7 separate regions of the Homo sapiens genome follow, and regions 1, 2, 3, 4, 5 and 7 are each reported to be linked to region 6. The links are microRNA targets in miRTarBase. Many come from high-throughput screens and were not tested one by one. Region 6 holds a microRNA gene; each other region holds the end of a gene's coding sequence.

Region 1 (4,086 bases), not on the chromosome of region 6:
GAGCTTGGGAGGTTGAGGCTGCAGTGAGCCATGATTACACCACTGCACTCCAGCTTGGGCAAGAGAGTGAGACCCTATCATCTCAAAAATAAAATAAAATAAAATAAATGATTGTTGGCCCAAAATGACAAGCTAGTGGTTAAAGCCATATTTGGTGGGTAGGTGGCAGAACAAGAAAGGGGTATCTGCTAAACTTTGGGCTCATGAGAGAAGATAGTGGGTTAGGGACATATGCAGTATGTTTTAAAAGAAAATTTTGGACAGGAATTCAAGTGTGATACACATGGTGGTCAGGAGAATCACTAGTATGTATACTGCAAAGTAGAGTTTATAGAGCCTACAGAGCCAGTGAAGAGACATTTCAACACTTAAGCCTAGCCCAGACCAGAGCTCTGAGTTCATTGTTCTTTCTTTCTTTCTTGGACCACATTCTTTCCTGGAAAAAAGGTGAATATGCACACAGGCAAGATAACAAGCAATAATTAGGAAGCTAGAATTGTAGCACTAAACATCCCAAAAAGCTTCTTCAGACAAGGTAGCATTGATCCCTGTATCCTTAACATCTTCCTCAGTGCCTGGCACTGAATAGATGATACTGGTTGAATGGATGAATTGGCTGATAATAGTGAATTGTTGGCATACTTAGTGAGTTCTAAGTGATGGGTAAAATATAGGAGAAAGATGTTGAAAGATGTTGTAGATTGAATAGTAAGGGTGGATAGGGGAGGGGAGTTTTCGGGGAGATCCCAGGGCTGGAAGTGGCGAATGCATGGGAAAAAACAGGTTCTACAGCTTAAGCTCTTGAGGAAAGATTGGGGAGGTAAGAGAGAAAGAGCTTGACAATAAGAAACAGTATGCATTCACACTGTGCTCATTGTCCACAGGGGTGCATTCTGGCTCTGCAGGATAATGTTTGACAACGTAATGTGCCAGTTATCCCATAATCTAAGAAATTACACTTTCAAAGTTTTCTGGATCTGTATGCCCAGGAGCTAAGGGAGCCAATGTTGTCCTCCTGGCTGACTGGCCATTATCTCCACACAAATCAAAGCACATTTCCAATGCCACTCCATCTGAAGTTTTGACATCAGCATCTTGGTGTTAATTTTTAACTTAAAATCACAACTTTAAGAGCAAAAATTTTGTTATTCCAAGTAGACAAGAAAAAATTATTTTCCATGTGAATGTTTTAACCCAAGCTTTAAAATATTTAGGCATTGGCCAGGTATGGTGGCTCACGCCTGTAATCTCAGCACTTTGGGAGGCCGAGGCAGGTAGATAGCCTGAGCCCAGGAGTTTGAAACCAGCCCAGGCAACATGAGGAAACTTCGTCTCTACCAAAAATACAAAAATTAGCTGGGCATGGTGGTGCACACCTATAGTCCCAGTTATTAGTGAGTCTAAGGTGGGAGGATTGCTTGAGCCTGGGAGGTTGAGGCTGCAGTGAGCTGAGATCATGCTACTGCACTCTAGCCTGGGTGACAGAGCGAGACGCTGTCTCAAAAAAAAAAAAAATACATACACACACACACACACACATATATATGTAATAGGTAACCATACATATCAAATAATGCAGTTGTGGATCATAAAAAAGGGTCAAATAGCATAAGTAAATGGACCCAGAGCTCTGTCTAGTTGGGATTTGCTTCTAATGTTCACCTGCTAATGATTCCACGAGTTGCCAAATTAGAAATATACTTGCCCCTATTGGTACCTCATGAATTTTCTCAAATATCAAATGATTTCAACTTACGACTTTCTTTCAAGTTAACTTCTAGTAAGGTTCCTCAGAATCAGATTAACCCCTGGTGAGATACTCAGTTACAGATCTTCATGAATGCTGGTTTAGTCTGGGAAATTGTTTCAGTCTGTGGATCTCTTCAATGCTTAAACAATTACTTTAACTTGTTTGGTAAAAATTATGATCTAATTATTTTTCAAGTGTACTTGGCTTAACGAAATGCAGCAGCGGGGTGTGCCTTTTAGCAGCAGAACCGACCACTTTTTACATTCCTTACAAATAAGATATGGTTCAGTATTTTAAATCATAGCAACAGTTGATAAGAAAAACAGCAAAAAGGTAATCATTTCCATATGGAAAGAAAAAGAAGAACCAGTGAAGCTGTGAACTGTCATTTTTCCATATAAAAGTCACTATTGGTAGATTTGGCAGAAAGGGCAAATGTTCCTATTTGTTAATCATTTTACATTTGTTAATATATTGCATGTGATGTGTTTTATGGAAATACAACATTCCCTTCAAACTCAGTTGTCAATTTCCAAGCACGTTTTGTCTTGGGTGAAACCCGTATCTTGTGCGTCAATTTCATCAAGTAACTATATTTCCTTGGTGATAATTTTCTCAACTTAGTGAAAAATTTAGGTGAAAATTCTTACCCCTTTTACTGAAAAGCATATAACCATCATCTGTACCAGCTGAATACCTATAAGTAATTTCATTCTTTTTTTTTTTTTTTGGAGACAGTCTTACTCTGTCACCCGGGCTGGAATGCAGAGGCACGATACCAGTTCACTGCAGCCTCGACCTCCCAGGCTCAAGTGATCCTCCCACCCAAACCTCCAAAGTAGCTCAGACCACAAGTGTATGCCACCACACCCAGCTAATTAAAATTTTTTTTTTTTTTTGGAGAGATGGGGGTCTTACTGTATTTCTCAGGCTGGTCTCAAACTCCTGGCCTCAAGTGATCCTCCCACTTTGCCCTCCCAAAGTGTTGGGATTACAGGTGTGAGCCACCATGCCCAGCCCATTATAAGTAATTTTAAAGCAATAATTGAATAAAATCAATATCTGCTCTGGCATTCCAAGATCCAAAACAAAATTTGAGCCAATTTTCTCATGCCCAAAAAGTTTAAGAAAAGCACACTAAGTACACATTTACCTATTTACTTTTGTACTTAAGCATAAGCATTTATTACCAAAATCCTCATATTTATTTTTAAATAGCTGCTTAGAGTGGAAACTTGCCCTGTTACAGAATATTCAAAATACATGTTCACACTGTAGCATTTGACAACATCTCCCTCCTGTGGTTCAAAGCATTCATTTCAAACATGAATATATTAAGTACAGAATTACAATTCCTTAGCTTGAAATTATGCTGTGAAAGTTTGGTTCATGCTTTGTGAGTTGTTTTTGGAGTTGTTTTGGAGTAAAGATTTAGGAACATGTAGACAAAGAGAATATTCTCTTTTCTTGGCTAGTTCCAGAGTCCCAACATTTCAGCAAAGTGTTTCCCCAAAGTTCTTTATAAAAGCACCATTTTTTTTTCTTACAAATGAAATACCAAGTGAATGTTTTCATTGAAAACATGCGATTCTCCATTTTAAAAAGTTTTCTTCCTTTTCTGTGGGCATAGTATGCAGAATAGACTCAGCATTCTACGTGGTTACTTTAACAGAATGGAACTTTGAAAACATTTTTTTTTTTTTTTTTTTTTGAGACGGAGTCTCGCTCTGTCGCCCAGGCTGGAGTGCAGTGGCGCGATCTCGGCTCACTGCAAGCTCCGCCTCCTGGGTTCACGTCATTCTCCTGCCTCAGCCTCCCGAGTAGCTGGGACTACAGGCACCCGCCACCGCGCCTGGCTAATTTTTTGTATTTTCTGGTAGAGACGGTGTTTCACCGTGTTAGCCAGGATGGAGAACTTTGAAAACTTTACAGAGAAAATAGTATTGAAAATATTTTAGTCCAGAAATGCCTTAAGGTATACTTTTCCCATTGTTCAAGATCAGAGATTACAGTAACTGGCAACAACCTGCTCTAATGACGTGAAACTGTCTAAAAAGTCCTCTTCTTCGATTCCAAATTTTGTGTACTGATGAATGTAGGCTCTGGTAGAAAAAAAAAAAAAACAGAAATTACAAAATAAAAAATGTCTGGCAAATGAGTAACTCTTAAACAATAAACAGACCTTTTCTAGCTGATGAACATTTGAAGATCACACAATCGTTCAGAAGTCTTACATTTGCTTTGTTTACTCCAAAGATTAGTGAACTTTCTTTTTTTTTTTTGAGACAGAGTCTTGCTCTGTCACCTAGGCTGGAGTGCAGTGGCATGATCTCGGC
Region 2 (4,099 bases), not on the chromosome of region 6:
AAGAAAAATATTGAATAAAGTCATCATGTTCCCTTATAAATAACTTTACTGCATAATTCTTTCAGCCAAACCAATATTAACCTTGTGATGTTTAGTTACTGGTAAAGATTAATGCAATACAACAGGACCTATACTTGCGTAGTCACACAATATATGTTAAAAGAATAAGTAAACCTATTCACAGCAGCAGAATACCAAGAAATAAATGGTTAAACTGTTTCTTTCTAAATCTGAAGGAACAAAAAGGTTTTCTTCAATATGTACAACACTAATAAATTGGGACACTCCTCCTATTTTGCTGAGTCACTTAAAAATCTGAATTTAAGCTGTCATATTAGAAGACAAACAATGAAATACAAGATTAAGCTAAACTTGAGAATTAAGATCATGACCATAAATACCAACTAATTTTTGGTTTACATAAGGTAATTTTTGATTTATGGAGGGAAAAAAACCTTTAAGAATTTAGAATCATAATATAGCCTCCAGCTGACATAGTAATTGTTCTCTGGGCTGTTGTTGACTGTAGTATTAGTGTGGCATGCTCTTTGTCAAATTCAGATCCATTAAAGCATCCTTGAGTTGTTAGAGAATAGTAACCTACTAAACATAATTTGATGCCCAACAACCTTTAATTAAGCGAACTCTCAATGTATGTTTCCTGATAATGTGTAGTCTTAAAATACATCAGCCTTGAAATATTTTCATTTCTAAAAGAAATGTTCCACATTTTGGAATGTGGTTAACAAAAAGTCATGCTGCATTTACCCCCTTGTAATGTCCAGGATTCAAAAGCAGAATTTTGTAATGATGCATTTATCTCCTCAGCCATTTCTGGTCCCTGATTAAATAGATTTTCATTACTACAAGGATAAATTTGTCAACTAGTTAATGTTTCATATTGAGAAGAAGGCAAGGATGCCATTTTCTCACCTCCACCTAAGGGCATCCAATTGGCATTTTTCTAATCAGTTACCACTGCAGAAAATATTTTTACCTAAATGTAACAGTTCAGAATAAAAATATCCTCCATCCACAATGCATGTAAAACTGTTGCACAGTGAAGTGGTCTCCTAGAACCATGGGGTAGAAGAATAGTTCCCTTTGGGAGAAATAGGATTAGAACTCCAAATCTGAATTTTTCCTCTTTATAGACTAGATAGGTTGAAAAGGGGTTATCACCTTATTGAAGGCTAACACATTAGCCGAAGACATACTGAAGGGGGTCCAATGTGACTTTTACCAGGTTCTCATTTGGAATGTGCCTGGGGCAATTAAAAAGAGAAGTAATCCATGAGACATAAAAAGAGAAATCTTAGGGACAATGAGGCTGGCCCAGTATAAAGTCCAGGGAGATTCTGGACTGTCTATCATGATTAGTTGTAGCGGCTCTAGTAAGTTGGCTCACATAAATACTGTTGAATGGATGGTCTTAGGGACACTTTGCATCCAAGAGGGGATTTGAAATTAATGTTTTAGGACGCTTTTCAAAGAGGAAATATTTTATAAAGAGAAGAATGGCTACCATCATAGGAATGGTACAGATATTGAGAAAGGATTCAATTCTAACAAATAAATAAGAAAATAGGATAGACTGCTTAATGATGGTGCAGTTAACATACCTTCTGGTCTTAAAGGACTACATACTGTACTATCGTGATGTACATTTTATGCTCTAATAAATATCATAGGAAATTATTAAAGTACTAGGTTCCCACCATGTTGCAGCACTTCTAAAAATGTCTCTAATGGTGTGGTTAACAGAATTGCTGAAATGTTGCTTCATTATTCAGAGGATACATGCAGATGCTGATGAACCAGATAAACTCTCTAAGGATGGAATACTGCACATTTCACAGACATTATAGTGGAGATTAATAAAATGTTTTCTCTTCAACAAGGTGCATGCATTTCAGTCACAGTATTTGTTAGACTCAGAAGAACAGTACATACGCTTTATGAATAATCCATATTATGATAGTAATGATGCAGGTAGATGTTCTATTATGAATAGTTTTGATAAAGCAGAAAACCTCAAGCAAGGTAGAATGTTCAATATAAACCTTAACAAACTGTATACTTGTTGCTTAGGAACTTAAAACTTACTTACAAAGTTCTGCTTAAAAGATACCCATCCTATTCTAACCAAGTATCTTCCTATATGCCAAGCTGTGACTTTAGATCATTCTTTAAGATTAATACATATATCCAGAACTAGAAACCAAGGCGTACCACAAAACGTGCTTTTATGTTTAGTGTTTTTGTGTGTTTTTCAACTAAAAGAAATAAGAATCAACCATTTTCTTCATATAATAATTTAATATATGCCAGCCAAACAAAGTATTTGTATCTTTATTCAATTAAATTAAAACAGACCTGCCAGGTATATTATATAACATTCACTATATACATATGATTTAGGCAATGCAAGATAATTCTAGATATGCTGATTACTCAACTATGTGTAAAACATGAGCGGTGTCAGTGATGCCCAGCAAGTGCTCCTTTTCACATTGGGTGCCTGCATTTCCATGGTATGGTTAGAGGGATAGCTACGAGCCATGACATGGACTACCAGTAAACTTCTGTGGGAGAAGGAGGGAAAATGACAATCTAGCATAGATGAACAGTCTCCTAAATGCAAATAGAATAGTTGACAGTTATTTTTTTTTAAAAAGTTCTTCTGTCATGTTAATGACACAAAACTTCTCTTTTTTGAAGGCAACACCACCACATTTTGTTTGGGTGTGTGGGGACAGGTGGGGGGAATGCTCTTAAAATTGGTACAATTATTCCTAAAACAACAACAACAACAAAAAAGTACCTCTTTGGTGAAGCCTCGGTACCCATTCAGTTCACCGTAATAATCTGTAAACAGGCCTGTAGTACAGTGCCGGGCCTTGATTTCAACAAGGTCAGGTACCACAGCCTTTCCTCACAGTCCTTTGAGTGATTTTTAAGAAAATATTCTAAAGTAGAAGAGTAAAGCAAAGGAAAACAAAGGAAGATATTAAGATCCCTGTTTAAGTTTTTTTTTTTAAAAGTGCATAATTTGAATTACAAAAACTGTCATGTGGGCCTGCTGGACACTAGACTGTGTTTTCCATCCCTTTAATGATCACTTCACAAAAGATCACTTCACAAAAAGAGGACTCCTGCCTATTGGCCAGAAAAAGTCCCTTTATGATTTTCAGGTGCAATCAGTTGTCCAATTCCTCTAGGTCGGTCTTTCCATATTCTAAACTGGAATACCATTTCCATTGTATAATTACATCTAGGTTAAAATTCATTGTCTTATACTGCATCTTGAAGAAGAGTCGTTAGTGTTTGGAGTTCTCATTTTAACTCCTCAGTGCTGGCACATTCAGTGCATCCATTGCCAGCAATGGATTTGGGGCTAGGAAAATATACATCCCAGTACAGAGGAACTCAGGAAGAATGGGCATTCTCCAACAGTGGTGGTCCATCTCTGTGCATGGATGGGTGTGTGTGCTCCCTTTTGTAAGTTTTTGGAGGGAGTTTAGGGATATGTTGAGAAGTGCTTTGTCGTGGAGGAACAGGCGGCCCAGCAATGGAATGAAGGTCCACTTCTTGTGTCAATGGTGGTGATGGCAGATGCCTTCTTGTGCCGTGAGGAGAAGGTGTTTGAGGAGGAGGTGGTGTAAAGGGGGAAGGGCTGTTTGGGAAGAAGGCATTGCCATGGTCACTTTTTTTGCCCAAAGGGGGAGGTTGGAGATGTAGTGGTGAGCTTGAGAAAACATCAGGTGTCCTCACAGGTTCTCGTGGTGGTAATAAGGGAGGGCTTTCAGGAGGGTCTGAGATAGAGGTCCGGTCTGATATTGAATATCGTGGTGAATAGGCTTTTGATGTGGGTTGCCTAGGAGGAATGGCTGGGGGACTGTCCAAATGCTTAGACATAATCTAACAAATGAAAAGAATAAAATACACATTTATTAATAAATTTATGAAGTATCATGACTATAAGAATTAAGTTGGGGTTTTCAAACATGCTATTGGCAGGATGCTAAGTGTGGAACAGGGAGTTTTGCCATATGTTTTCTTTTTAATTAAAAAAAAATTTTTTTTTTTGAGACAATGC
Region 3 (4,000 bases), not on the chromosome of region 6:
GGTAGTGGTGGTAGGGAGAAGACCAGATCTTCAGGGAAAATTAGAAGTATTAAAAGGGAGTCAGCCTGGGCTTGGGTTGGCTCTAGCCCAAGGACCCTTCCATATGCTTCAAGTCTAGACCTAGAAGAGACTGTTATGGCAAACATTAGTATGACCATTGGGTGCCCTCTCTAGATATTCAAATCCAGGGTGCCAATGTCCCAGTTCGGCAGTGTAACCTCCTCTGGAGGATCACCCTTGGGCCACTGGAGACTCCTCACCTGGAGTTTTCTGGGGAATGCTCTCTCTTGGCTGCAATGGAAGCCCCAGAGCACACTTGGGATCAGGAGAAATCTGACATTCCAGAGCCCCCCCATAGGTCAAGCTGAGGCTGAAGTCCCAGAATTTCCTCTGGGATTGATTGAGACTCCACTTGTAACTGCATTCTTTCTTGTGTTTATCCTGCTAATATGTTTCTCCTAAGAGGATTTCCTTTTAATAAATCATGTATACACAGCTCCCTGTGTCAGGCGCAGCCTCTAGGGAGCACATCCAAAGACAACTAATGGTCCACACATTTTAAAGTCTCTGCTATCAAAGCCAGTTCATCCTGCTGCCTCTAGATACCCATTCCCTCAAGATACTCAAGAGCAGACACCAATTTGCTCTCCCTATCTTACTCCACTGCCTCCAGGACTATTTGTGGGACAGATAAGTTTTCTTGGACTTGTTTTATTCCTGAGTAAAGGACTGTTAAGGAATTTAGGAGTCAGGATGAGAACCTGTTAAGTGGCTTCTTCCAGAGGAGGAGGATGAGCTCTTCTGCTACTTACTAAGCTGCAGCAACAAGTACCCAGGCTGCTGGCTTCTTGCCAGTCAGCTTGGGTTTTCTTGAATGAGGCAGTCATTGTCATGAGCGTAAGTTTTTTGAGTGCAGAAAGTCCCTGGACTTGAGGGTGGCAGGAATATCCCCCAGATATGACTCCTCAATCCTCAGCTCCTTACAGCTAACCTACTTCTGTAGAACTTCTGTTTCAGCCTCTCACACACTGCAAAAGAGGCATCGGCATCGGCCAGTTCCTATATGTCTTTTTCCAGCTCAGAAGACACTTAAGGGCAGACAAACTTTAAGTCAAGAAAGATTAAGAAGGAGAACTCTTTGCTGAATTTTCTCTCCCTTTATTCTGAAAACTCTACCCCCTCACATCCCTAATCCCTGTTCTGTCCCTGCCACATACACACACAGACGTCTGACCCTGCACCTCCAAGTTCCCAAAGATATTGTACGTAGAAAAAACAAACCTTTTTTTATTGACATTCACACTCAACACTGAACACTCCTTGCCACCAACTGTGTGGGTTTTCTCCCACACTGGCCAATTCTCCAATACCAACTGGATATCATACAATTCAATTCTGGCATTAATCGGCATTAAGTGCAGATCCCCAGCAGGTTAAGAGCTCAGTCCCATAAGATCTCCCCCAACTTCAGACACCAGTCACAAGCAGTAGGTTCCAAAGTTACTCACATCTTCTATCTGACGTGGCTACAAAGCAGAGGTTCCCATGATTTCCTTCTCAGATTTCACCATTTGCTAGAGTAGCTCACAGAACTCAGGAAAGGGCTTTATTTACTATCATCAGTCTATTATAAAATAATATAACTCAGAAACAGCCAGATGGAGGCACAGGAACAGGTTTGGGGGAAGGGGCACGGAGCTTCCACGGCCCCTTTGGGCTCACCACTCCTCATGTATTGAGCAATGCAGAAGCTCTCTGAACCTTGTCCTTTAGATTTTTATGGGAAGCTTTATTCTTAGGCATGATTGATTAAATCATTATCCATTTGTGATCGACTCAACCTTCAGCCCCTCTTCCTTCCCCAAGGTCTGGGAGTGGGGCTGAAAGTTCCAACCCTCTAAACACATGGTTGGTTCCCGTGGCAACCAGACCCTATTCTGAGGCCATTCAGAAGCCCCTAACTATCAGTCATCTCATTCGCGTACTACCAGACACATCACTTGGGAGGTCCCAAAGGTTTTAGGAGCTCTGCACCAGGAATAGGAAGAAAGACCAAATACATATTTCTTCTTGTAAATGACAATAACATAGATATGTTCTGGGTCCTATACTTGTAGGATTCAGTTTGCCATCATGTTTCATGTTAATAAGAAGTTAATATTCAGCTTTCTCAAACTAAGAGACATAGACTACCACTGTAAGGTATGAGCCACAGCACAAAACATAGTTCTTTTTTAAAGCACAATTCTTCTCAGAGATTTAAGGAGAATTTATGTACATATATACATACACATATATATGTACATACTAACATGGATATAGTACATTGTAGAATGCAAGATTTGCATTATTTCTGATAAATGTAAGACTGCAATGCAGTTTTATGCCAGTACTGCTTTGGACAGTGTCCCCAGACCTTTAGCCAAGGTCAATTTACCCTACTATAGTCTGAATGTTTGTGTCTCCCCCAATTTCATATGTTGAAATCTTAACCCCCAAGCTGATAGTACTAAGAAGCAGAGCCTTGAGAAGTAATTGGGTCATGAAGGTGGAGCCTCCAGGAATGGGATTAGTGCCTTATAAAAATGCTCAAGGGAGCTTATTTGCACTTTCCACCATGGAAGGACACTGAGAAGTCAGCAAGCAGTTTGCAACCTGGAAAATTGCTCTCACCAGAACCTGAGCATGCTGGCAGCCTGACCTCGGACTTCCCAGCCTCCAGAACTGTGAGAAATAAATTTCTATTTTGTATAAGCCACCTATCTATGATATTTTGTTATAGTAGCCCAAACGCACTAAGACATACCCACGGCCTAGTAAGCACTGTGCCTAAGGACCATAATACTTGTAAGGGCCCACTAAAATGTTTTTAATTTCTTTTAAAATCAGAAGAAAATACATAAACTTTTAGGTTGAAGAAAATGCTAATATATTCACCTTTTATCAATGCAGTTATAAATATATATTTCTGTGTGTGTGTATATATATATATATATATATATATATATATATATATATATATATATATTTGTTACTACTATTTTGAATGTAGGAAATGGTTCGCAAAGGCAAAAGTACATAAAGCCCACAAAAATTATGATGCAGCCCTGCTTCCAGGGGAGTATTTTCAGTATACAGTGAAAACATGTGAAAAACTTTCAATTTTAGGTATCATATTCTTGCAACTTGTGATTTTTGAGAACTGAGATCTTCAGATCCTGAGGGAATGAATTCCACAATTTCATACATCCTTAAAAGTGTAGATTTGTAGGACAGAGACTCCTGCTGATCACACTGCAGGAGCCACTGTGTAGGGCAACCTATGTTAAGAGTAACTTGCTCACTCACAAGCCATTGCTTCTGCCCCTAAATTCTGCAACCAATATTTACAGAGACTGATGAGCCCTCTCACATGAGTCTGTCTGTTGAATGATAAAATCTTAGATCTTGGAGCAACATTTAGGCCTACTGAGCCCCTCTCCACCAATGCAAGAGCACCTTTGTCACCCCTCAGCATCAATTTGAGCACATCCTGATGTTCCACTTGAGAGCTTCAAAGCAGTTTCCTTTGTGTTATTGTCTTGTAAACATACTCCAAATGTAAGAAAATACAGAGACACACAGGTTGCTGGTGATACGTTAGGAGGATCACAGAATGAGCATGCCACTCAACACCATGAGTCATTGATGGTGGATGAGCTACATATTGTGGGCAGTACCCACAAGGACCATTGTCGTCTCATCATCCTCAGGGCTAAGTTGCAGACCATTGTCCACCACTCTGTGGAGGGTGCTATAGTGTTGCTGGCTTTGGTGGAAAGAATGCAGCTCTGAAGCAGCCTCCCAGGCAGCAAACGTAGGCATGGGAAAAGGATCTGGCCTCTTGTTTTCAAAAAAACATTTCAGGTTCCTCTCGCTCAGCTTGTTGGCATAGTCCAGAAATGTATTTTCCAACTGCTCCTTCTCCTTTTGTGCATATGTCTTCCAAAAACTCAGCTGA
Region 4 (4,099 bases), not on the chromosome of region 6:
GGACAATGGTAGGAAGGAGGGAATTTGGGCATGCAACATAGGGTGTTTAACTCCTGGTATGTTATTTTACCATTTATACTGTCCTTCATTTTACTACACTAACAGGAACTGAAAATCTAAAAAAAAAATCTAATACATTACCTGTCATAATGACATTCTAAAAAAATTTTTAGCAGGTCACTATTTTGACAGATACTTATTTTTTTTCTTTCAGATCTTTCCTCGGATCCAGATGAATTAACAAATGTTGCTGTAAAATTTCCAGAAATTACTTATTCTTTGGATCAGAAGCTTCATTCCATTATAAACTACCCTAAAGTTTCTGCTTCTGTCCACCAGTATAATAAAGAGCAGTTTATCAAGTGGAAACAAAGTATAGGACAGAATTATTCAAACGTTATAGCAAATCTTAGGTGGCACCAAGACTGGCAGAAGGAACCAAGGAAGTATGAAAATGCAATTGATCAGTGGCTTAAAACCCATATGAATCCAAGAGCAGTTTGAACAAAAAGTTTAAAAATAGTGTTCTAGAGATACATATAAATATATTACAAGATCATAATTATGTATTTTAAATGAAACAGTTTTAATAATTACCAAGTTTTGGCCGGGCACAGTGGCTCACACCTGTAATCCCAGGACTTTGGGAGGCTGAGGAAAGCAGATCACAAGGTCAAGAGATTGAGACCATCCTGGCCAACATGGTGAAACCCTGTCTCTACTAAAAATACAAAAATTAGCTGGGCGCGGTGGTGCACACCTATAGTCTCAGCTACTCAGAGGCTGAGGCAGGAGGATCGCTTGAACCCGGGAGGCAGCAGTTGCAGTGAGCTGAGATTGCGCCACTGTACTCCAGCCTGGCAACAGAGTGAGACTGTGTCGCAAAAAAATAAAAATAAAATAATAATAATTACCAATTTTTCATTATTTTGTAAGAATGTAGTGTATTTTAAGATAAAATGCCAATGATTATAAAATCACATATTTTCAAAAATGGTTATTATTTAGGCCTTTGTACAATTTCTAACAATTTAGTGGAAGTATCAAAAGAATTGAAGCAAATACTGTAACAGTTATGTTCCTTTAAATAATAGAGAATATAAAATATTGTAATAATATGTATCATAAAATAGTTGTATGTGAGCATTTGATGGTGCTCGATGAGTTACTTGTATTTGATGGGATTGTTTGGATGTATTTAATGGGAGTATTTGGAGTATTTAACGGGATGTAAACCCTGGATGTACCTGATTTTGTTACTGTTTTATTTTAATAGGTAATATATATACAGGGTAAAAGCTTCAAATGGTACAAAAGGGTTAACAGTGATCGTGAAGTCTCTGTCCTTTCCCTCTTCCCTGCCATCCAGTTCCCCCTCCAAGAAGCAAGTACCGAAACCACCTGCTTACGCATTTTTAGAGATTGGCCACAAATTTATAAACAAATGTATATATTCCTTTCCCCCTACACAAACGGTAACATACTGCACACATTGTTCTGCATGTTGCTTCTTTTTCCTTTTTTTTTTCACTTAACAGTAGATATCTAGAGGTGAAATTACTGAGTCAAGACTATATTTAGCAAAATTACACTAGATACTACAAATTACCTCTAAAGAAGGTATACTAACTGATAATCTCACCATCAATGCATGTCTTCTTATCCTTTGCCAACCTAACAGATAAAAATGTTCTATTTTTATTTTTCTTTTTATGAGTAACGTAGAGCATATTTTCATGTATTTAACAGCCACTGGAATCTGCTTTACCATGGCCTTTCCTATTTCTATTCTTTGCCTATTTTTCTGTTGGTTGTTGGTCTTTGTTTTGTATTACAGGTGTGCTTTAGATATTAGCTTTTTGTAAGAGATCCTGCAAATATCTTCTTTCCAGTTTGTCATTGTCATTTGTCTTTTGACTTTGTTCTGGTATTTTTTGATATGTAGAAATTTTTATTTTCATGTAAGCAAATTTATGAATCTTTGTACACCATAAGTATATACAATTATGATTTGTCAATTAAAAATATTAGTACAAAATTTACAGATCTTTGCTTTTGTGGCTTTTGGGATTTTGTATCATATTTAGAATGGCCTTCTCCACTTGTCATTTTTTTTTTTGAGACGGAGTCTCGCTCTGTCACCCAGACTGGAGTGCAATGGTGCAATCCCGGTTTCAAGTGATTCTCCTGCCTCAGCCTCCCAAGTAGCTGGATTACAGGCACCCGCCACCACACCCAGCTAATTTTTTGTATTTTTAGTAGAGATGGGGTTTCACCGTGTTAGCCAGGATGGTCTTGATCTCCTGACCTGGTGATCTGCCCACCTAGGCCTCCCAAAGTGCTGGGATTACAGGCGTGAGCCACTGCGCCTGGCCTCCACTTGTCTTCTTTTATAATTTTATTTTTCACCTTTGGATCTTTGACCCAGCTGGAATGTATTAAACATATTAGAAATCTAACTTTGGTTGTTTTTTTAAATATGCCTACCCATTGATCTTTTATTGAGTAAACTGTCTCTTCTCCCATTCGTAAAAATGTCACTTCATCATATAATACCTTTGGTTGAGTACATTATCTTTTCCTCCATTGATTTGCGATGCCATTTTTATCTATACCAAAGTCCCATTTATACTTATGCCATTTCTGAACATTTTATTTTCCACTGGACCATTCTATTTTCTTTGTTTCTGTTTTGTTTTTTGTTTTTTTGAGACAGGGTCTTCCCTTGTCACTCAGGCTGGAGTGCAGTGGCACAATCACTGCTCACTGCAGCCTCAATCTCATAGGCTCAGGTGATCCTCGCACCTCAGCCTCCCTAGTAGCTGGGACCGCAGGCACGCGCCACAAAACTCAGCTAATTTTTTAAATTTTTATAGAGACAGGGTTTCACTGCATTGCCCAGACTGGTCTTAAAGTCCTGCACTCAAGCAACCTGACTGTCTCAGCCTCGCAAAGTGCTGGGATTACAGGCATGAGCCACCACACCCAGCCAGACCAGTCTATTTTATTAGTCTGGTAGACAGTATCTGGTAGGACTAGTCCCTTTGCAATAGTTTTCTTTTTTCAGAATTGTCCTTCCTAGCAACTCTTGATTTTTCCATACAAATTTAGAATAAGTTTGTGTAGTAACAAAAATGAAAAGTCCTGTTGGCTTTTAAATGAAATCATTAAATGTATAACCTACTTTAGAGAGAATTTAATTCTTTATGATAGTTATTCTAAATAATTAGCATGTTTTTCCCTTTATTCAAGTCTTCTTTTATATCCCTCAGTAGTAGTCTAAGTTTTCTTCATATAGATCAATTTGTCCGGAAAAATTTTTGAAAAGCAGAGACTTTAAAAAATACCCCCCTAGGCTCTACACTACACCACTTGATTAGAGCTTCTGAGACAGCCTGGGCCTGCTGTGCTATTATTGTTGTCTTGCTGGTCAATCCCTCCAGCCATGATTCTAATATGTAGCCAGAGGTGGGTTTATTTCCAGTTGTTTTATCAGTTATTGTGATTTTAAGTGAATCTTCCTTCCATTATATCCTCTAAGAGAAGATCTTCTTGTTTATATGTGCACTCCATTTCCATATATTTATTTTATGCTGAATCACTTCATAGTGAGTAATAGTTTTTCAAGTGATATATTATTTTCCAAGTAAAAATCTTACCTGCAAATAATTTTACCCAACTTAATACTTCTTCAAACTGTCTTTGAAGTTTTCTTCATGAGTAAGTTCATCTCCTTTATTTATTTGTTTATCGTTCTTCAGTGAATTTATATGAGCTTACCTTTGCAATTATGAATTTCTGAGAAATGATTTTACTTTTGAATATATCTGATTTTTATTACATATGTATATACACATGCATACACAAACACACATATTCTGAAGTGAAACCCTTAAAAAGAAAGACTGAGTATTAAGGTTAAAATTAAACTATACAAATCCACCATCCATCTCCTAAATAAGCCTAAAGAACACAAGTAGCTAAAGTATGGGTATATATGCTAATCATAGAGAGAAAAGCAATAACAATAGAAATGTGGTCCTGAAAATAGGCTTGTGAAGATAAATCTACTTCATTCTACCCAAACCCTTTAAGATAC
Region 5 (4,000 bases), not on the chromosome of region 6:
GTACATACCTATCATTGACTATTAAAACATAACATACACATAAATGTGGTGTAGTAACTATGTAACTTAAGAAATTTAACAGTTCATGGAACATTTAAGATCAAGTGAATAGCACTTTAAAATGAAAAGTGATCAAAAGCAGGTACATTACACCCTATACCATATTATGTATGGGAATACATTTCATATTTCTCAATTATGATTTGCCAATTTTACCTTCTACATTGAGCCCTTCTATGGTCCATGCTCATCGGCTCACCAATGGCATACACTCAAAGGATTCCTCTTTATGGGTAACTATCTCAGGACCTGATTTTATGAGCTATGATTTGGTGCTTGCAGCATCTTCAGCACTGTGTGTGAAAATGAAGGCAGTATTTTTGAATATTTTTCTTTGTTGCAGAGATAAGCAGGAGTTTTAAAAGGATCAGCACATTTTAGAAATCGAATAAACAAAACTGATAAGATGCTGCTTTCATACATTCAACTTAACTCAAAATATGTACCAGTTAAAATCATCTATAAAAACACACAAACATTTTAAACTGGCAAAAAAATTAAATGCAGCGTCAGTTATTAAAATATTATTAAATCAGAAAAATACTGATTGCTACAGATTATGAAAGGTTATTTGCTATACAGTTAACATTTCACTGATGCACATGCCTTTTATCAAAACATACTGCCTTATAACTTTTTCCTTCTTCAGCATATAACTTTTGTCTAAGAAAAAAATCATAATAAAATTCTAACCCATAATATCCTTACTGAATTATTATAGTTTAAGAATAAGAAAAAAATAAAGAAATTATAATTTTGGAGGGCAAAGAAATTTTCTGTCCATCATATAAAACAGATTGTGAAGGCTGTTGAAGTTTCTAAACAAGTGATTTCCTAAATCTTGAAAACTGTGTAATTGTCCTTTCTTAATATTAACACTTCTATATTTGGGGAAAAAATACAAAAAGATTTGGATGTAGTTCAATTACTGCAGCAATCTACTCATCATTTTCTTGTCTTAATAAAAAAAAAAAAGTAAAATAAAAAACATTACCCAGAAATGTAAACAGTTGCTTTAACAACTTACAGACTTTCCACTAAGATGGTAGCATAAAATAACAAAATACATTTTGGGGAAGCAGTAGCAGATTGCCTTTGAATACACAACCACAAAAACCTCACAGGGACAACATTAATGTATTGAAATATTTATTTATATATGTCCTTAGGTTGTGCTTACCTGGTGCTTTTTGCAGCAGAACCTAAGGTGGAAGGTCTGGGAAGGCACTGTGAAGTATAAATAATTGCACTGTTTGCAATTAATAAAGATTTTAAACCTTAAATGAATCAAAATCAACAGCCTCCAATTTGTGAATTATGATACTGAATTCAACTGAACTACTTCTTCAGTTCAATTAATAAATGCACCACTTTCCTAAAAGGTCATCTATAAAACAGTATCATGCAAAATACTGCAATTGTTCACGTCAATACCCTACTCTTAAAGATAACAAATAGCTAACTCCTTAACTATTAAACTTCATACTAGAACTATATATGCAGATCTAAATAAGGGTAAGGGAAGTCACTCTAGGTTATATAAAACAATCAAAAACATTTCAAAATATCTACAATGAACTGTACTGCTATTTCCATCCTGTAGGTAATCTCAACATTTATGTCCTTGTACCTCTTCCTTTAAAGTATATTCAAAACAACAAATGGTGCTCTCCACCAATGACAAAATATATATTTATGAAATGTGTTAAAATTGCTACATTGCTCATTATTTGCAAACTGAAATCCCCTTCTGTCTGATACATTTCAAGACTTTCATATTAAATATAGAAGATATGCATATTTTACACTGAAAAACAATATTTTAGGAGCACCAGTGAATAATACTATTCAACTTTGTTAAGTATCAGTTTTCTTTAGCTATAGCTAAAGCATATAAAAAATACTTACCCATTAAGCTCACTTTAAAAAAAATACAGAACTATGTATTATTCTATGTTAAATTAAGAGGCAGTTATGGTTTTCCAAGATATCAGCACTGTATTCCAACATAATATTCACACAACGTATGGCATTTGCATTATGTGGAACATTGACAAAAAGATACTGTTGCAGTTCATCAATTTGTCATTCTGATGTACTTACAGTGCAATGCTCCTTGAAGGAACACAATCAAGGATGATACACAGCACAGTCCTCCTCACCCCTACAGAGCTAGTTCTATACTGGCTGGATCAAACCTGCACTTCAACAGACAATGGCAAGACAGACTGTATTTGCATGTAGTCTAATATATTAATATGCAAAGAGCCAACAAATATGCAAAGAGTAAAACAATGGATTTCAACAAAATATCAGAACTTCAGCATGAGTGTTAAAGAGTAATAAAATGACTTCAAGTACATAAAAAAATTAAGTTGATTCAATGATTGGACTTGTGCATTTACAAAACAAAGCTTATCTATACTGCATAAAGAAAAAAAAAAAGCTTGAACGTTTCCATACCCCATTTATGTTTCAATGGCAGATGCAATGTAGCTATACTTTTTGCACACTATTCACTTTTCTATCCTAAATTTAGAAAGAAACACACTAACATTATATACATTGAAAGAGTTGCTTCACATGGAAAAAAACTGTTCTTATTAGACTACTCATATTCACTATCTGAAAACTGTTTAAAATTAGTTATGCCGAAACAGTCTTGGAAATCAAGTATTATCAAATTAAGAACAGAAAGGTTAACTGTTATAGCAGCAGTACAGGTCTGAAACAGTGGTCATGTATAAAAGGAAATTTCACTGTTAATGCAATGGAAGTATGCCAAAAGATCATTGTACACACATGCAGTTTTTAATCAAACAGAAGGAAAAAAAATGAAGATATCAGGATTACTTGTGCTGAAAGAGCCAATACAATAAATGGAAAAGATCCTCCAATCTACCACTATACTGCAAGGGGGGAAAAACATGCCAGTGTTTAAAAACTCAATATTTCATGGGGAAAGCTTATATATTTGTGTATATGTATCTTAATTTATCATTGCTAAGAAATTATGAATCCTTTAAATACCCACATATCCAACTTACCGACACAGGAGGTTTCATATCATTTATTGTAAAGCACAAAACAGGCATTTTAAAAGTGAAAGTATACATTGAAAAAGTACATTTATATCACAAAGCATCAACCACATAATTGCAAATACATTTGCTGGAATGTGTACATCTACACTAAATACTAAAAACAAACCAATTTTCATTTCTACACAGAAATATTAACCTCCTATCAGTAGTGATAGATATTTTGTACATTTTCAAAAAAAAAAAAAAAAAAGGAAACACTATTTTAAACCAAAAACAAAATTAAGATCTTCATCAAGTCGTCTGCATCCATATATTTAACAAAGGTTTTTTTCCCCCACACAATGAAGCAAATACTGTATTGTCCACTTCTTATTATTGGCCCTGTGCAGAAGAGATACATAAGAAATACACAAAAAGTTAAAGAAAATCCTTGAAATGGAGCTAATTCAGGAGTGAATCCTTTAAGAAAGAAAAAGTGGTTAATATAAATGGTGGTGGCTTCTTGCATGATTTGCAAATCCCTGGGGGAAGAAAATTTATTTTTAAAATCAAAGGCATTGCAGAAATATTCACCACTCAGATGCTGGAAAGCATTATAAAAAACAAAAAAACCCAAACAATACACCGTAGTACTTCATTTAAATAGTTATTATACTTTGCCAGATAAAAATTTAAAAGGCAAACACTCCCAAACAGACAAACAGTAAACATGCAGAAAACAGACTGGAGTAGAAATCAACAAATTAGCAATTACATTATACCTGAGGTGCTGGAGGATGCTGTGGCATTCCCTGGGGACTTGTCTGGGCATAATAGGCTGCTTGTTGTCTATAATACTCAGCCCAGGCTGCACTATAATCTGGCTGACCACCTGGAGGAGCCCCAGTCGGAGCAGG
Region 6 (4,099 bases):
AAAAACTCTATATTTTTTACTCTAGTATTAACTTATGGAATTCACTAGAGAAAAATATCCAATAGAACTACCTTTTTTGTTTTATCTTGTTTTTGGAATTCTACTTTAATGGCAGGAGCCAAATGACACATTTTCTCTATTCTTTGAAGAAAAAAAAGAATGTCTTAATTAACAGAATTAACAGAAGAATTGTAAAGCAACAACAAAATCATGCATGTAGATATTGAAAAACTGTCAACAGAGTCATTGACAGGCCCAGACTGTGAGGAATCTGTGGAATATGTAAAGCAAAGGAGGTCAGATTCACAGCATAATTAAACTGAGCTAAGGAACATTCCATTCCAAAAAAATAGTAAAGTTAATTTTCCAAAAAGAGATAATGTGAAAGAATCTATAAAATGAGGGCCAGAGCCTTAAAGAAGAACACTATGAGGCATCTAGCTGGTTATCGTATTTAAAAAAACACAAAGTTTCTGCATAGAAAAAGAAAACAATCAACAAAGTGAAGAGACAACCTATAGAAAGAAAAAAAAATTGCATACTGTTTATTTGGCAAGGAATTTGCATATCCAAAATATACAAGATACTCAATTACAAATCTATTAGATATCTCTAGATATAAATATATATGTATATAATTTATAAAATGGGCAAAAAAAATCTGAACAGACATTTCTTAAAATAAGATATAAAGATGGCCAACAGATACATGAAAAACTGCTCAACATCACTAATGATCAGGGAAGTGTATATAATAGAATGGCTATAATAAAAAGAAAAAAAGCAGCCAGGCGCAGTGCCTCAAGCCTGTAATCCCAGCACTTTGGTAGACTGAGGCTGGCGGATCACCTGAGGTCAGGAGTTCGAGACCAGCCTGGTTAACATGGTGAAACTCCGTCTCTACTGAAAATACAAAAAATTAGCCGGATGTGGTTGCACGTACCTGTAGTCCAGCTACTTGGGAGGCTGAGGCAGAAGAATTGCCTGATCCCAAGAGGCAGAGGTTGCAGTGAGCCAAGGTCACGCCATTGAACTCCAGCCTGGGCAACAGAGCGAGACCTGATACTCTGCCTCAAAAAAAAAAGTAACATGCTGGCAAGGATGTGGAGAAAAAGCAAGTCTTGTGTTTTGTACACTGTTAATGGAAATGCAAATTAGTTCAGTAATTATGGAAAATAGTATGGAAGTTCCTCAAAAAACTAAAAATAAAACCACCATATGATATAGCAATCCCATTACTAGGTATTTACCCAAAGAAAATAAATCAATTATAGAAGACGTATCTGTATCTCCATATTTATTGCAGCACTATTCGTGATAGCCAAGATAAGGAATCAAGCTAAATGTTCTTTAAAAGATGAACAGTTGAGGAAATTGTGGCATATATATACAATACAATAATATCCAGTCATGAAAAATAAAATTCTGTCATTCTGCCATTCACAGATAAACCTGGAAGGTATTATGTTAGGTGAGATAAGTCAGGCACAGAAAGATAAACACTGCATGTTCTCTCATATGTGGGAGTTAAAAAATGAGCTTATAGAAGTATAGAGTAGAATTATGGTAATCACAGTTTGATAATGTTATTAAAGACAGAGAAAGGTTGATTAATGGATACAAAGTCACAGCTAGACAGGAGGAATAAGTTCTAGTGTTCTATAGCACTATAGGGTAAGCATAGTTAATAATAATTTATAGTGTATATTAAAAAAACTAGAAGAGATTTGGAATATTCCAAACATGAAGAAATGATAAATGTTTGAGGTGATGTTTATCCTAATTACTCTGATTTGATCATTACACTTCATATACATTTATCAAAATATCACTCTGCAGATTATAAATACATACAATTAATATGTGTAAACTAAAATGCAAAGGAAGAAAAACCCAACAAAGCAATTTCTCCACACGTTACCTAATCCACAACAAATGGCTTCTGAAGTTTACCTCAAGTAAAGGCCATAAATATGACTCTTTAAGGTAGAAATCTTAGAAGTAAGAGTTACTTAGCTTAATGCCCTCTAGGTTTATCCATATGTATTTCATTGTAGTGTTAGTAGCAATAAAGTATAGAAACGACCTAATTGCTCATTGAATGGTGACTGATAGTGTTACATATACAGCCATGCACTGTGTATTGCATCAGTCAACAAAAAACCACATATATAAATGTGGTCCAATAAGATTACGATACTGTGTTTTTAGTGTAATTTTTCTTTGTTTTGGTATGTTTAGATGTACGGATGCTATTGTGTTACAATTGCCTATAGCATTCAGTATAATAATAAGCTATACAGAGTTGTAGCCTAGGAGATACAGTCTATGTCATATTGTCTAAGTGTGTAGTACGTTACACTGCTGTGGGACAGGCAAGGCCCCAAACTGGGGCTTAGCCAGGGAGGATTTCTTGCTTAACCCCGGAAAAAATTCAAGGATGAGCTAGGAGTCTTAGCAATCGTTTATTGAATGGTACTGCTCCTTGCAGAGCAGGGCTAAATCATAGGCAGTGCAATCAGAGTCAGCAACATATGGTCTCTTGGCAACGGTATTTATACTCAGCGAGACCCACATTCAATTGCATGCAAATTGAGGGGTGAGCCAATGCAAATTGAGGGGCAGGTTGTTTAGAACTTTCTAAGGCAGGTCAAATGCATGCAAATTGAGGGGTGAGCCAATGCAAATTGAGGGGCAGGTTGTTTAGAACTTTCTAAGGCAGGGGCAGTAACTTTTAGGTTGTTGCCATGGAAAGAGGTGGTAACTTCTGGGTTGTGTTGCCAGGCTGCTCATATTGCTCATTAGCATAAGACACTACCACCAGCACCATGACAATTAAATTGCAATGAGTAGTTAGAGATTGCTTTTGTTGACATCTGCCACTTCCTATCAGTTTCTTCACTTCATGCTCTCTGGCCAGATCCTGTTTTGGTTAGCAGGGTTGTGACCAAAAAAAAGTCCTGCTGAAAGATGAATGGATAGTGTTATATATACAGCCATGCACTGTGTACCCAAACTACAGAGTGCATGGCTGTATATATAACAGCATCCACTCAATACCATCTAGGTTTGGATAAGGACACTCCATGATGTTCAAACAATGATAAAATTGCCTTAAGGTACATTTCCCTGTTAAGCAATGCATGACTGTGTGTGTGTATATATGTATATGACCATGAAATATTATTCAGCCTTAAAATAGAAGGGGATTCTGCCATATGAGGCAACATGAAAGAAATAAGTTCTATTGTTGGGGGTGAATAGCCATGAGAGTGGAGAAGGCCATCAGTTAATCCATGGTTTGTGGCATTGGCCAAGCATGACAAGCAGTGAAACCATATTCAAATATGGAATCAACTTTTCTGACGATGACAACAAACAACTGTTGGCTTTACTATACAAGTCAGAGGCAATTGTAAGGCTCTTTGTTGTTTAATGCCCCACAGGTAAAACTTTTCTGTCCAGGGAATATTCTAGAGCAATACTGTGCAAGAGACCATTGTGTGATAACACGTGTTCTACCCTTGCATAGTCCAATATAGTAGCCTGTAGCCACATGTGCCTTTGAGTATTTCAAATACAGCTAACACAATGGAGGGACTGACTTTTTAATTATTTTAATGTTTAGTTAATTAAACATTAAAATTAACTTTAAATAGCCAAGTGTAGCTCCAAGAAACATCTGGAGCTACCAGGAACTGGAAGAGATAAGAAAGAATTGTCTCCTAGAATCCTGGATTAAATGCAATCCTGCCGACACCCGAGTTTGAACTGGCTTCTAGAACTGGGGGAGAATACATTTCTGTTCTTTTAGCCATTTGTTTTATGCTAATCTGTTATGGCAGCCTGAGGAAACTAAAACAGATGGCTTCGGGGAGAAATTTGAAACAGAAGCAAGAAGTAAAAACAGTAAGAAACAAACAAGTATGTATTCATCACAGAGGTACAGAAATTAACCATCAAATATCCCAGGCCCTAGGGGAGGAAGTGCCACGGTGGCAGCAGCGCTATCTCATCAGACTGTTCCTGTGGGGGGATTTTACTGCCATTCTGGAACCTGGTTTCCATGGGGCTGCCCTGTTCTGAGCCTGTTTCTTTA
Region 7 (4,099 bases), not on the chromosome of region 6:
AACTCACACGGAGGCTCTGCTCCTTTGCGTCTCTATGTGGGTCGCCAGTAGGTATTTTAGAATATCTAGAAGGGAGATTATCCATGGGTACTGAAAGATCATTTTTTTTTCCCCATAGGATACTTCACCCGCCCCTGGCAGTGGGAGAAGATCAAGGCCAACTGCCCTTACATTGTGCAGTTTGGCTCTACTGACGACCCGTTCCTTCCCTGGAAGGAACAACAAGAAGTGGCCGATAGGTTGGAAACCAAATTGCACAAATTCACTGACTGTGGCCACTTTCAGAACACAGAGTTTCATGAACTGATTACTGTTGTAAAGTCTTTGCTGAAAGTACCAGCATAGACTGTATGATTTCTGCTATTTTGCATCCCAATATAGGAGTAGAATAATATCTACTATCAGCTGATTACTAGACACATAGAACATCCAGTTAAGTTCCGTAAGTGCCTGAAAAACAAACACAAGTTTCAACATTCAATCTAAGTTACAAATAGCACTTCCATTTTCCATAGACTCTAAAACTCCCCAAATTGCTATGAACTACCACAGTATTTTCCTCATTTGATAAGAAACATAAGGACAGCTTAACTACCCTTCTCTATCCGAAGTGAGTCAGAAACAGAACCCAGGTTTCTTGATTCCCACTCCTGAGTAAAATTAAATAGGTTTTATGTATGTTGCAGGTATTGCACACTTTTCCTCTTTGAAATCAAACTTTTCTATTTCACTGGGGAAAGAAAACATGACTGAAAGTCCAGAGTGTTAGCTTAGAGCTCAAAATACTAGCTGCTGTTTCAAGCTGGCCCCAGACATTAAACTCAGACTAGGGCCTTCACCTCTGACACTTGCCCCTAAGTCCTTCAGACATGTTGAGAGAGACTGAGACAGGAGTCTTCCGGAGTCAGGCAGGAAGGAGAAGCACAGCAATATACATTCATAATATACGTACAACTGACTAGATTTGTTTGAGACAAGAGTGGTGGGATCAGAGCCATGTGGAGAGCTCATGGCCTGTCTAAATTGTTGCCATGTGGAAATGGGGCAGAGTGTTGCCAATTTTCTGATTTTTTGTGTGGAAAAAAATCTCCAAATTGTAGTTTTTAAATTTGGGGAATGCAAATATATATATATATACACACACACACACACACATACACATACAATCCATATACATATGGAGTATGTAAGTTGGCAATAACAGTATACATCAAAAAATTTACAAACACTGCAAGACAAATAAAATCCAAGCCATCCATTTGTGACCACAGTCATAAGCATTCACTTAGCCAGGGGCTTTTAGATAATTGTCTGTGAAGTCTGAGAAAAGACTAAGATAACCAAGATGAACATAATGTCAAAGGACGAAATCATGGGGACAATTTGGATTTTGTTCCAAAAGACAAGTGTTTTTAAAAAGAACCTTTCCATACTTCGTGTTCTGTTCTATAGAGTTAAACCTTTTAACTTCCATGGCCCTTTAGATCTCTTTCAAGCACATTCCATTTTCTTCTGATCATACTTCCTCAGAAAACCTTTTTTTGGCTGGGTGTGGTGGCTCATGCCTGTAATCCCAGCACTGTGGGAGGCTGAGGTGGTTGTATTGCTTGAGGCCAGGTGTTTGAGGCCAGCCAGGGCAACACAGCAAGACCCCATCTCTACAAAATATTAAAACATTAGCTAGGCATGGTGGTGCACACCTGTAGTCCTAGCTTCTTGGGAGGCTGAGGCAGGATTGCTTGAGCCCAGGAGTTTGAGCCTTCAGTGAGCTATGATCGCGCCACTGTACTCCATCCTGGGTGATGGAGCGAAGAACCTGTCTCTTAAAAAAAAAAATTTTTTTTTAATTAAAAAAACCCACCCTTTTTCATTTCCCAACATTTTTTGGCTATTATGATCGCTATGTGTTCCTTCAAATAATTTCCAGTGAATCCACACTTGATGTTGCAAAGCCTAAGTTTGCTGCAGAAATACAATTTCCTACACTTCATACCTAAAGGAGATTCAGAGCTATCGCTCAAAACCAAAAGTCTTGGTTTTTAAATGTGCTTAGACAAAAAAAATCAGGAAAGGTACCCTAATCGTTCAACAGCAATCATCTTTGGGGAATGGGCATTTTGGTAGGTAAAGTGTGGTGGACGTCCTTATTATTATTTTTGAGACAGTGTCTTGCTCTGTCTCCCAGGCTGGAGGTCAGTGGCACAAATCTCAGCTCACTCTAACCTGCACCTCCCGGGTTCAAGTGATTCTCATCTCAGCCTCCCAAGTAGTGTGAACTAAAGGCATGTGCCACCACGCCTGGCTAATTTTTGTATTTTTAGTAGAGACAGGGTTTCACCATGTTGGCCAGGCTGGTCTCGAACTCCTGGCCTCAAGTGATCCACCCACCTCAGCCGCCCAAAGTGTTGGGATTACAGGCATGAGCCACCATGCCCGGCCCCTTATTTTACTTTATCCTCCTGATTATTTGAATTTGTTACACTAAGCATGTATTTTATAATCAAAAATAATTAAGATTTAAAACAATGTATTTGACTACTAAAAAGCAAATTATATAAATCAGTTGAATAATAATGTTGTTAAAGAGGCTGTTTAGCACTAATTTGACCAAATCTATAGTCAAAGTTTGATTCTACTTGAATTTTTTGGAAATTTGCTGTTGTATTACTTATTCTTTGCCTTGTTCTCTGTGAAGTCCTTTCCTAAAAAAGAAACTTATACAATTTAGTTCACAAAACTTTGTTGACCTCTTTCTCTGTAGAAATGAAAACTAAATATATATAATTGAGAAATAATTCTGATACTCTTCATTCCTATAAAAGTAATTAAGATAGACCTATAGGATTGTTGAACTTTGCTGCCAAATATAGTAACCAGTAACCACAGCTAGCTGTAAAATTGAAAATTCAGTTCAGTCAAACTAGCCATATTTCAAGTGCTCAACAGCCACTGGTGGCTATTGGTTACCTTACTGACCAGCCAATATAGGCTATTTCCGTCATTATAGAAAGCTCTATTGGACAACATTGGTCTAGGACATATATTTTGTATTTTCCCCTCACCCACCATCCAATAATGAGTAATAGCACAAAGTAAAAGTGACTTAATTTGAAATTACTTCTGTTTGGCTAGTTTGCTTAGCTGATCACCACCAACATCATAGGTCTATAAATCACCCAACTAAGATCAGGGGTGTTTCATGGGAAAATCTACACAAACTATTCATTAAAAACCATAGAGCCATGGACTGTCATTTCTGATTTCTGTTTGATTCTTTGTGGTCATCATTGAATATACAGGGGCCTCTATACACTCTGGGGAGTATCTATTCTCAGGTGAGCAAAATACCGAATACTGAATGGAAATCAACTGTAAGTATTAGGACTTCATATGCAACTTGAATTTTTGGTGCTGTCCGGAGTCTAGAGCCCCACAATCTGTTTTGGTTACAGTTTATCCCTGTAGGATAAATGATCCATTTAACTATTCATCAGAGGTGCTGTAATTTTAAATTGTCTCTTGTCTCCTTCAGTTAATTTTCAGAATTAAAAACATACCATGGGAAAAAAGCTTGAAGTTTCTCTTTATTGGTGAGGTAAGGAATACTTTTGTTTTAGCCATTGAATGTTAAGCTCTAAAAACCAATCTTTAGCTATAAAGACATAAGACAAAGTCTATATTTAAAACATACAAGCTGGTTTCTTCTCATTTCTAGCTCTCTTCCAAGTTCATTTTTCTTACTACATAAAACTAGTGCCTTTTTGATAGGCCAAGTCCCAGGAAGGACAGACATTGTTCTTACCATTCCAACTCTCACTGAGGGTGGAAGAGAAACCCTCTGTCTGTAGTTTCAGGTTCCCAGATCCTTCATATATATATATATATATATATATATATATATATATATATATATATATATATATATATATTTATATTTACATATATATATATTTATATTTACATATATATTTTTATATATATTTATATATATATTTATATTTATATATATTTATATATATAATTTTTTACAGTCCAGAGATCTTTTATTAACACTTATTATGCCATGAATTCATACGGAATAAGTTCCAGCAGCTCAGGC

Evidence for each region. The annotated mature microRNA hsa-miR-5011-5p reads UAUAUAUACAGCCAUGCACUC and lies in region 6 at 3,022-3,042, opposite strand. An mRNA with a match to its seed (bases 2 to 7 or 8) in the 3' UTR can be bound and repressed. Matches are read on the target gene's strand: a 7mer-m8 pairs with bases 2 to 8, a 7mer-A1 pairs with bases 2 to 7 and ends in A, and an 8mer does both.
Region 1: miRTarBase lists TUBD1 as a target of hsa-miR-5011-5p. The part of its 3' UTR that is shown has no 7-base or 8-base seed match.
Region 2: miRTarBase lists SOS1 as a target of hsa-miR-5011-5p. The part of its 3' UTR that is shown has no 7-base or 8-base seed match.
Region 3: miRTarBase lists CALHM5 as a target of hsa-miR-5011-5p. Seed matches in the 3' UTR shown: 7mer-A1 at 3,022-3,028, 8mer at 3,020-3,027, 8mer at 3,018-3,025, 8mer at 3,016-3,023, 8mer at 3,014-3,021, 8mer at 3,012-3,019 and 21 more.
Region 4: the mRNA of ARSK is a reported target of hsa-miR-5011-5p. Seed matches in the 3' UTR shown: 7mer-A1 at 1,280-1,286, 8mer at 1,281-1,288 and 7mer-m8 at 1,448-1,454.
Region 5: miRTarBase lists FUBP1 as a target of hsa-miR-5011-5p. Seed matches in the 3' UTR shown: 7mer-A1 at 3,028-3,034, 7mer-A1 at 1,747-1,753, 7mer-m8 at 1,746-1,752, 7mer-A1 at 1,553-1,559 and 7mer-A1 at 1,215-1,221.
Region 7: miRTarBase lists RBBP9 as a target of hsa-miR-5011-5p. Seed matches in the 3' UTR shown: 7mer-A1 at 1,123-1,129, 8mer at 1,124-1,131, 8mer at 1,126-1,133, 8mer at 1,128-1,135, 8mer at 1,130-1,137, 7mer-A1 at 2,775-2,781 and 1 more.

The regions. Positions count from the first base shown.
Region 1 is chr17:59,856,573-59,860,658 of GRCh38, forward strand. TUBD1 (tubulin delta 1) reads right to left here. Exons shown (of 9, transcript NM_016261.4): 9 at 2,907-3,852. The coding sequence ends at 3,750. Among named protein-coding and RNA genes, the nearest start is that of MIR21, 17 kb to the left of the region's middle.
Region 2 is chr2:38,982,395-38,986,493 of GRCh38, forward strand. SOS1 (SOS Ras/Rac guanine nucleotide exchange factor 1) reads right to left here. Exons shown (of 23, transcript NM_005633.4): 23 at 1-3,921. The coding sequence ends at 3,430. Among named protein-coding and RNA genes, the nearest start is that of ARHGEF33, 95 kb to the left of the region's middle.
Region 3 is chr6:116,515,689-116,519,688 of GRCh38, reverse strand. It overlaps CALHM5 (calcium homeostasis modulator family member 5), which reads right to left. Exons shown (of 2, transcript NM_153711.5): 2 at 1-4,000. The coding sequence ends at 3,700. The region is part of intron 3 of TRAPPC3L (trafficking protein particle complex subunit 3L); the gene reads left to right. Among named protein-coding and RNA genes, the nearest start is that of CALHM5, 6.0 kb to the right of the region's middle.
Region 4 is chr5:95,603,023-95,607,121 of GRCh38, forward strand. It overlaps ARSK (arylsulfatase family member K), which reads left to right. Exons shown (of 8, transcript NM_198150.3): 8 at 215-2,080. The coding sequence ends at 504. Among named protein-coding and RNA genes, the nearest start is that of GPR150, 15 kb to the right of the region's middle.
Region 5 is chr1:77,945,290-77,949,289 of GRCh38, forward strand. It overlaps FUBP1 (far upstream element binding protein 1), which reads right to left. Exons shown (of 20, transcript NM_003902.5): 19 at 3,866-4,000; 20 at 1-3,485. The coding sequence ends at 3,477. Among named protein-coding and RNA genes, the nearest start is that of FUBP1, 32 kb to the right of the region's middle.
Region 6 is chr18:67,080,550-67,084,648 of GRCh38, reverse strand. MIR5011 (microRNA 5011) reads right to left here and starts at 3,065; the gene lies at 2,963-3,065.
Region 7 is chr20:18,486,010-18,490,108 of GRCh38, reverse strand. RBBP9 (RB binding protein 9, serine hydrolase) reads left to right here. Exons shown (of 5, transcript NM_006606.3): 5 at 119-3,569. The coding sequence ends at 345. It also overlaps the pseudogene RPL21P3. Among named protein-coding and RNA genes, the nearest start is that of RBBP9, 9.2 kb to the left of the region's middle.